Regions from separate parts of the Homo sapiens genome. Here region 2 is linked to region 1. The links come from fine-mapping of genetic effects on gene expression. A gene starts in region 1. The other region holds a variant in brackets. All regions are shown on one strand. Distances are between the middles of the regions. Region 1 holds the start of YLPM1 (YLP motif containing 1). Region 2 has its middle 18 kb from the start of VSX2.

Region 1 (4,388 bases):
CCGGGTTCAAGCAATTCTCCTGCCTCAGCCTCCTGAGTAGCTGGGATTACAGGCATGTGCCACCACACCCAGCTAATTTTTGTATTTTTAGTGGAGATGGGGTTTCATCATGTCGGTCAGGCTGCTCTTGAACTCCTGACCTCAAGTGATCCGCCTGCCTTGGCCTCCCAAGGCTGGGGTTACAGGTGTGAGCCACCATGCCCGGCCTAAATTTATACATTTTTCAAAAGAAAATGTCAGCCCAAAATATTAAAAACACAACTAACTAGGGTTTCTGGGTTGGGTTCCTGATCTGGGTGCCGATTTCACAAGTGTGATTGGCTTGTGAAAATTTACTATGCTGTCTACTTAAGACATGTGTTAAATAAAATTTATAGCAAGTTGGGCATTAGGCCCAACAGAACAAACCAAAATGGAGTTTATTGATGTTGCCATGCCAAAATTAAAATCTTTATCTGACCATTCAATAAACCAGGAGAGAGAGAAATAATAGCCAAGTCTGCAAACAGTCCATTTTTAGCCAGCATGATAAAGAAGTCCTCTCTGCTTTAACCTTATAAGAAAAGAAACTTTGAAACAAACAATCCACTTTTAGTTTTCTGTTTCTCTCTTTTTTTTCTTTTTTGAGATGGAGTCTCGCTCTGTCACCCAGGCTGGAGTGCAGTGGCACGATCTCAGCTCACTCCAACCTCTGCCTCCTGGGTTCAAGTGATTCTCCTGCCTCAGCCTCCTGAGTAGCTGAGATTACAGGTGAGCACCACCACGCCTGGATACTTTTTGTATTTTTAGTAGGCATGGGGTTTCACCATGTTGACCAGGCTGGTCTTGATCTCCTGACCTGGTGATCTGCCTGCCTCAGCCTCCCAAAAGTGTTGGGATTACAGGAGTGAGCCCCCGCGCCCTGCCTCTGCGTTTCTTTTCTGTCTATGAAATTATCCCGATTGTTCTGCTCATTGGAACACTGTTTCTGCTTTATAGAATGAGACGTTGCCCAATTCTAGAATAGCAGGTAAAAGTTAATTAAGATCTTTAAACTAAATTTGTTGTAATTTTGTCTTTTGACATGTAATTTTCTGTATATTCGTTATACTTCAATAAAAAGTTAAAAGAAACATAACTAAATTTCTATTTGAAAACAGAAGCTCTTCCTTTTGAAGGATGCCTTGCTGCTCCACTTTCCATTCACATTCACCTCCTGAGAGAGGTGAAGATCTGGGTTGCTAAGATGGAAGAAAGGTCAATTATTTGCATGTTACTCAAGTGATGCACTGACACAATATTCTCACAGTTCTCCCTCCCCCCGCCCCCCCCCACACACCCAAAAGAATTCAGTGTATTAGCTTTGCTTTTTAGTGATTCACTCAAGCTAAAGTAAGAGTTTATGTCTGGTATTACGTTGAGAGCTTTTGGAAGATTATCTTCCAGGTTGTCTTTAGACCATCTTTGTATCTGGTTTTTGCTCTCTTTGCTTTTGCTCTGAGATTCTGCAACACCGATTTATATGTGTTGAGACAGTCTAAAAAATTCCATTTCTCCCCTTCTACAATTCCTGCAGATGTTACTCACTATATGTCTGCAGGAATTGGTGTAATCTTACACTCTGCCTTGAAAACACCTTTCCATTCTTCACAGCTTTGTTCCCAGTTGAATTTCTGGGGAGAATTGAGTTAGGTCTATTCATTTAATTTGGGAGAAACTGACATCTTTACAATTTTTCCTCTTTTCACCCAGGATCATGGTAAGCCTCTCCATTATTTGAAGTCTAATTTCATCCTACTTGGATATGCTTCTTTATGACTCTGTAGCTTTCTACATATAAGTCCTACATCTTTCTTGTTAGAGTTTTTCCTAGTTGCTTTATGTTTTTTTGTTGTTGTTGCGATTGTTGCTATTGTGAATGGAACCTTTTTTTTTTTTCATTCAAAAATGAACCCGTGGAGCGATAGGATCTCTACCACCTCTTTCGGCTGTGAGACTCTATGGTTTTTCAGTTCTATGAGAACATTCTACTGGAGCCTACATTATCTGAACCCAAAGGAAGATGGCAACCACGAGTCGCCAAGTAAAGGACCGCTCTATCTCGCCTTTGTTCTCCTCTCGGTGGTTACTGCGCAGACGTAGTCGCCCAAGTCGCGTCCCCGCCTTCCCGGTCGCGGGCCCAGCTCGGGAGCGCCGGCGCACTGGCGCGCTCCGTTTACACGCTCCGGGGCCTGTAGGCGCCGCGAGTTCCGGCTGTCGCCGTCGCCGCCGCGGCTCCTGGAGGTCGGTTGCGACGAGTAACGGCGCCAGGACGAGCCCTGCGCCTTCTTTTTCGATATGTACCCGAATTGGGGCCGGTATGGCGGGAGCAGCCACTATCCGCCGCCACCGGTCCCACCGCCGCCGCCAGTGGCGCTTCCTGAGGCCTCGCCGGGGCCCGGGTACTCGAGCTCGACGACTCCCGCGGCCCCCTCCTCCTCGGGCTTCATGAGCTTCCGCGAACAGCACTTGGCGCAGCTCCAGCAGCTGCAGCAGATGCACCAGAAGCAAATGCAGTGCGTGCTTCAGCCCCACCACCTTCCTCCGCCCCCTCTGCCGCCCCCGCCAGTGATGCCGGGGGGCGGCTACGGAGACTGGCAGCCGCCACCGCCACCGATGCCCCCGCCACCCGGGCCGGCCCTCAGCTATCAGAAGCAGCAGCAGTACAAACACCAGATGCTCCACCACCAACGAGACGGGCCTCCTGGTTTGGTTCCAATGGAGCTGGAATCCCCCCCTGAATCTCCCCCTGTGCCGCCTGGGTCCTATATGCCCCCATCTCAGTCTTACATGCCCCCACCTCAGCCGCCACCCTCTTACTACCCCCCGACCTCATCTCAGCCCTACCTGCCTCCTGCTCAGCCGTCCCCTTCGCAGTCCCCACCTTCCCAATCCTACCTGGCGCCCACCCCTTCTTACTCATCCTCCTCCTCTTCCTCGCAATCCTATTTGAGCCATTCCCAGTCCTACTTGCCCTCTTCTCAGGCATCTCCTTCCCGCCCCTCCCAGGGCCATTCTAAATCCCAACTACTAGCTCCACCACCACCGTCCGCCCCCCCTGGAAATAAGACAACTGTCCAGCAAGAGCCTTTGGAGAGTGGGGCCAAAAACAAGAGTACTGAACAGCAGCAAGCCGCCCCTGAGCCAGATCCCTCTACGATGACTCCACAGGTAAGAAAGCATCTGCCTGAACCTCATCTTTCACCTAGAGGGCCCTGAATGAGCAGGCCTCAGGGCTTTAACCAGTGGTTAGTCTAATTCCAACACACAATGACTAGCTAACACTCCAAAGGATTCCGTAAGAGTCAGAGGGCTGACAGCTCAGCTTTTTAATTAGCTAGATGTGAATTACCAAAAAAACAGCGTTTGTAGATGTGTATGGATTACATACAGTGGTGGGGTGGCTCAAAAGTTACCTCTCAGATACATTCCTTGGTTTCTTTGACCATCCTCTTAGATTTTGTTGCTGTTGCAAATAGATTTTGTTGCAGAGGGTCTTGTTTTAAAATTGTATTTTAAACGAAAGTTTCCATTTGAGAGAAAGCATGAAAAAGAGGCCTCGCCAAGGGCTGACACTTGAATGTTTGTAAACTTTATGATTAGTTAGCTTCTTTTAAAAATATTACTTAGGGGCCAGGGATAGTTGTCAGCTTCCTGAATTAAGAGGTTTCAGAAAAAGGATGGAAATCTTGTCTTACCAGGAGCATCCTAATTATGCTTATAGGTACATATACAATACATAGATGAGTCCCGAGACCCTTTTGGGGATCGATTGGTCCATTTTAGGAATTGACCCAGACATCCTTTTCTCATATTATTTAAAGATTGTTTTAAGATAATGAGCAATTTTCTGCGTTTCATTGTCATTACCATTCACTCCAAAGAAACAGCCTTGCAATTTGGCCAACGTAAAAAAAGTTTGGTGATATCTTTTCATGAGAGAGTCAGCCATTCTTATCCCGCAGAACAGACAAATTGACAGGGTAACAGTAATAAACGAGTTCCCCCTTGAGAGAGGGAAGGTCAAACTAAAGCAGAATAAATCAATTGTTATGATTTCCTAAAGTAGACACTTTTTCAGCGATTACTAATTTACCTTAGATTCACTAAGGAAAAAAGAGAATCTTGTAATATAAACGCTCAGATTTACCTATAAAAGATTTCCAAAAGATAGGGATGCAGTATTATAATTTTACGGTGGTTTGGCATTAGAAATTAAGAACAGAAGCAAGTTGTTTTAAGAAATGATGCTTGGCACATCTTCTGGAGAAAACACTTGGGATGCTGAAATAAAGTAGTAGAATAATGATTCTGTTGGCTTACATCAAATTTGTACCATCTCACCAGTTTATTTTCCCCAGATTGCTCTA
Region 2 (4,388 bases), 540 kb before region 1:
ACTGCCCCCTCCCCAGCCTGGACACAGAGGGGGCTCCGTTTGGCGCCCTGGGCCTCCCTCTCCCCCACCTTCTGCTGCTCCTCATTTACATAAATTATCTCTCTCCAATTATCCATCCAGCTGTCCCAACGGTGATCTGTGAATGAATTAAAAATGGAATATAATTTAATAATGGCTGATTAGAAGGAGATTAGTTGTTATATAAAAATGAAAAGCCAAGAGCCAGCTAGTTGCCCTTAATCTGAGCCAATACCATCGTTATTCCGGAAAGGCCCCCTGGCCACCATCAGGCAAGGCAGACACGGGGACAAAGACTGGGGGAGTGCCAGGTGGGGCTAGACCACCCCAGAGAGAAGATAGGGCACTGGGAGGCTGGAATTTGCAGCATCTCTGAGCTGTGGGGCGTGGGCATCTCCTGTGGCTTCCTTCAAAACAGGTTTGGGTGGCTTCTGGGGTCCCTTTTTGCTCTAAATTCTAGTCATCCTTGAATCAAACCACTGGGCTTTCCCAAGGCAGCCAATGACTTACACCAGACCCTGCTAGGCATAGGATCTGGGGTTCAGGAGTTTCGTTCCTGCTCAGGCCCCGCCTCTAAGAACACATAGCAGTAGGGAACACAGACTTCCCCTGAGGGGGTCTACCTGTCTAGGACAGGTGGTCAGAGAGGGTCTCAAGCTTGGTTGGTCCAGACGGTCCACGGAGGATGGACTGGCTGAGACAAAGAAGGGTGAGTGTGCCCAGTGGGACCTCTGGGCCATCTGAACCTCAGGTTAATGACTAGATCTAGTGAAGGGGACTAGTGCCTCTCCTCCAGGAAGTCTTCCCTGATCTCCTGGGCTTTGGGGTGTCCCCAGTGTTTCTACGATGCCCTGTGTTTTCTCCATCAGTGCACTGAGCACTGCCGATGGGGTGTTCAGGCCCCCGTTTGTGAGCTCCATGGCTTCTTCATGTCTGTATCACCAGTGTTGGGCACACAGTGGTTGCTCTACCACATCATTGAACAAATAAAGACACCACCTCCAAAAAGCCTCTGTGATTGCCCTAGTGTAGGTTATGCGCTCCTTTCTTTGCTCCCCAAACACACTGTGATTATGCCTTTAAAAATAAGGCAAGTCATTGCTGTGGAGAATATAGAGAAGGACAAAATTTTAGGTAAAGGTGGATAGATGGAGACAGAACAAAGTGGTTAAGAGGAGCAGTTTGGAGTCAGACTGCCTGCGTATGCATCCCAGGTCCACCTCTTATTGCTGTATGACCTGGGTGGGGCATGTTACTAATTTCTCTGTGCCTCAGTTTCCTCATCTATACAATGGGTGTATATAATAATAGTACCTACTCCATAGGATTTTGTGAGAATTAAATGGAAGCACTTGTGGCTCTTATAATGCTTGTCACACCGAGAGCCTCTCATCTCTGTTGATGGTGCTGGCTGGACAGTGGGCCTGCGCAAAGCCATCCCAACATCCCTGGCTGCTACTTTTACACTGCAGGGCCCACAGGGACACAACACTGTGGCGGGACCAGAATGTTTCACCAACCTCGGGCCTTCCTGAAGAGGCTCACAGCTCATGACATGCCCATGAGAGGGGTCTGAGCCCCGGGGCTCAGGTCTGGGCAGCGAGGCCTGTGTGACTGACATAAGAGGATGTCTGCTAGGCCTGAGCTTGCAGAAAAGGAATGAAAGGGCCGGGTGGCCAGAGGAGTTGGGCATGCAGACCAGGAAGGGAAGGCTGAAGAGCTCTCTGCAGCCGCTGACTCAGGCCTCAGGGGCCATCATGGAGCAGACAGCCAAGGAAATATTGTCCACAGTACCAGAGGCTGGGAATGAACAGGGTGGGCACCAGAGGAGGCTGATTCTCTCAAAATGAGAGGCAGTACAGATTGTGCACAGCAAGTGTTTGTTGATTGGCTAACTGAGCTGCACCGGATTTTTCTAAACTTTCTTAGTCAAGAAAATCTTGATTTCTTATGTTTGTAGAAGGGCCTGGGAATCCGCACATTTGACAAGAGCCCCCGGTGAGTCTCAAGAACAGGAGGTTTTGACCCCAAACTCCATCTGTCCCTCAGTCACTGCTGCAGTGCCCTCTGGCAGTGGGGGCTGACTGGTGACCCCCACCTTGCCCACTACCCTCTGACACTCACTCCCATCTCCACAGCCTCAGCTTCAGTCACTCCCAGGACAATCTCCCTGGTGAAGCCTGAGCACATCGGTCCATATTGCAGCCGGGGGAGGCCTCCCAGACCAGCCCAGGCTGTGGGATAATTTGATATTCAAATCCTGGCAAAGACCTGCTTCAAATTGCTGCAAATTAAGCTGATTTTGCCCCTCTGAATGAGGGATTTGCTCCTGTGGATCAACCCTCTTCCCAGGACTTGATGAGGTCAGGATTAGAGACGGGGAGAAAAAGCCTGAGGCCGGAGGCCGGAGAGCTGGAGAGCTGAGGGGCGGGGG[G/C]AAGCCGAGACCCTGGAGTTAGTGAAGGTTCCCAGGGTCTCAAAAGGCAGCTCTACCCAGTGATAGCAGAGCCTCTGAGGCCCAAATGGGTCAGCCCCACTCCTCCATCCCCCCAGGAGAGCACAGCTCTGTACTGTTCCCAAAGCAGTTTGTGGACCTCATCCAATCTTTCCAAGCACCTGTGACCCAGGGCGGAACCGATCACCCCCATTTTACTGATGAAAGGGGAGATGAGGCTTTATTGGCAAAGACAATCTGGACTCAACCACTGCCACCGACTTGCTACGTGACCTTGAGCAAGTGACCTCTCTCTGAGCCTCCTTGTAAGGATGACTGGCGATGCATACACAGTGCCAGGCACATAGCAAGCCCTCCATAGCATGGGCCAAGTTCCTAGCCAAAGCCCTGAAGCTAGAAAATAGCTGAATGGAGAACGTGGGGCTCTCTGGACCTCAGGAAGAGTCAGTCCCCTGCCTTCACCTGGAGGTCTGTGCCTTCTCCCAACTGTACCCCTCCTGATAGGACCTCCCCCATCCCTGGCAGAACCTCATTTCCATCTGTTTTCTCAGGGCCTGTACTGTATATTGCAGCAATTTCAAATGGCACCATTAAAGATTTTATGCTGGAGACGTTAAAATTAAAAAGATCTATGTGCAAAGAGTCACAACGAATTTAATCAACTTGATTTAATAGAAAACAGCAAATGGAATTTATGATGCTCCAAAAGACAAGGGAATTTTTTTTTCAACAAAAAATAATAAAAAGCACTTTGTGGAAAACAGAAAGTGGAGTGGGGTGGGGGTGGGGGCTCCCCATCTGAGAGTTGATCAGAACTTAATCCGCCGTGAACAACCCCAGTCGGGGCTGTTTGCCCACTAATCCCAGCTGCCATTAAAATATTAAAGATAAATCTAATCGTCTCTTTATCCAAAATAAGCGACTTTTGTGTGGGGAGAAAACATCTAACCCTTTGGGAGGAGAATTAGTCCTAATGCATCAAATGGAATTCGGTCCAGGCAGGGGCAGAATAGGGTTTACAGGCAAATGAGATGGTAATAGAAATAAAACCCAGAATAACAAATTAAAAACCCTCATTTACACGAATTAAAACAGCTCACAAAAGAGCCGGAGGCCCAGCCCTGCCCTCCTCGGCCCCAGGCCCATTCCCCCCTCCCCTGGTCTCACCCACCCGCAGGCCCCAGAGGAGCCAAGGCCTGACCTCATCCTTGCAACTTCTGCCCCACACCCTCCTGGATACTTACAGAAAAATGCACCCAACATCCGCTCTCCAAGACCAGGCGCAGGCTGGGTTTCTGAAGGCTCTCACTGAGTCTTCATTCATCTCCCCATCTCTCCTGCACCAGCTTTGGGGTCAGAAAGAACTTCATGCTTGTCCCAGTGCCCTCCCCTACTATGTGAGGTCTTGATTTGTTTCTATTTATTTATTTAAAATATATTTTTTAGAGACAGGGCCTCACTCTGTTGCCCAGGTTGGAGTGCAGTGACTCAATCACAGCTCACTGAAGCCTCAAACTCCTGGGCTTAAGTGATCTTCCTGCCTCAACCTCCTGAGTAGCTGGCACTACAGGTGTGCACCACCATGCCTTTCTATTTTTTTTTTTTTTTGGTAGAGATGGGATCTTGCTATGTTGCCCAGGCTAGTCTCAAACTCCTGGGCTCAAGTGATCCACTGGCCTCAGCCTCCTAGAGTGCTGGGATTAGAGGCTAGAGGTGTAAGCGACCACGCCTGGCCCTAGTTTTGTTTCTTAAAACCCCTGAGCCCCTATTACTTGGGGAAAATGAGGATAATAACGGCTCCTGTGCTCACACAGCCCTTCTCCCCAGCCTTGACCCCTGCTGCTGCTCCCTGGCCTGGCTCCACAGAATTTGATGAGGCAGCAGCATATGGAAGGCCCAGCACTGTGTCTGATCCACG

What was found. PIP is the estimated chance that this variant, and not a neighbour inherited with it, causes the effect.
Region 2: its variant is fine-mapped to the expression of YLPM1 in T cells (TOPMed, PIP 0.97).

What each region holds. Positions count from the first base shown.
Region 1 is chr14:74,761,174-74,765,561 of GRCh38, forward strand. YLPM1 (YLP motif containing 1) reads left to right here and starts at 2,143. Exons shown (of 21, transcript NM_019589.3): 1 at 2,143-3,189. The coding sequence starts at 2,317. RefSeq lists an enhancer at 1,851-2,190.
Region 2 is chr14:74,219,541-74,223,928 of GRCh38, forward strand. No RefSeq gene overlaps it. Among named protein-coding and RNA genes, the nearest start is that of VSX2, 18 kb to the right of the region's middle. The variant G/C (reference allele first, on the strand shown) is at 2,453.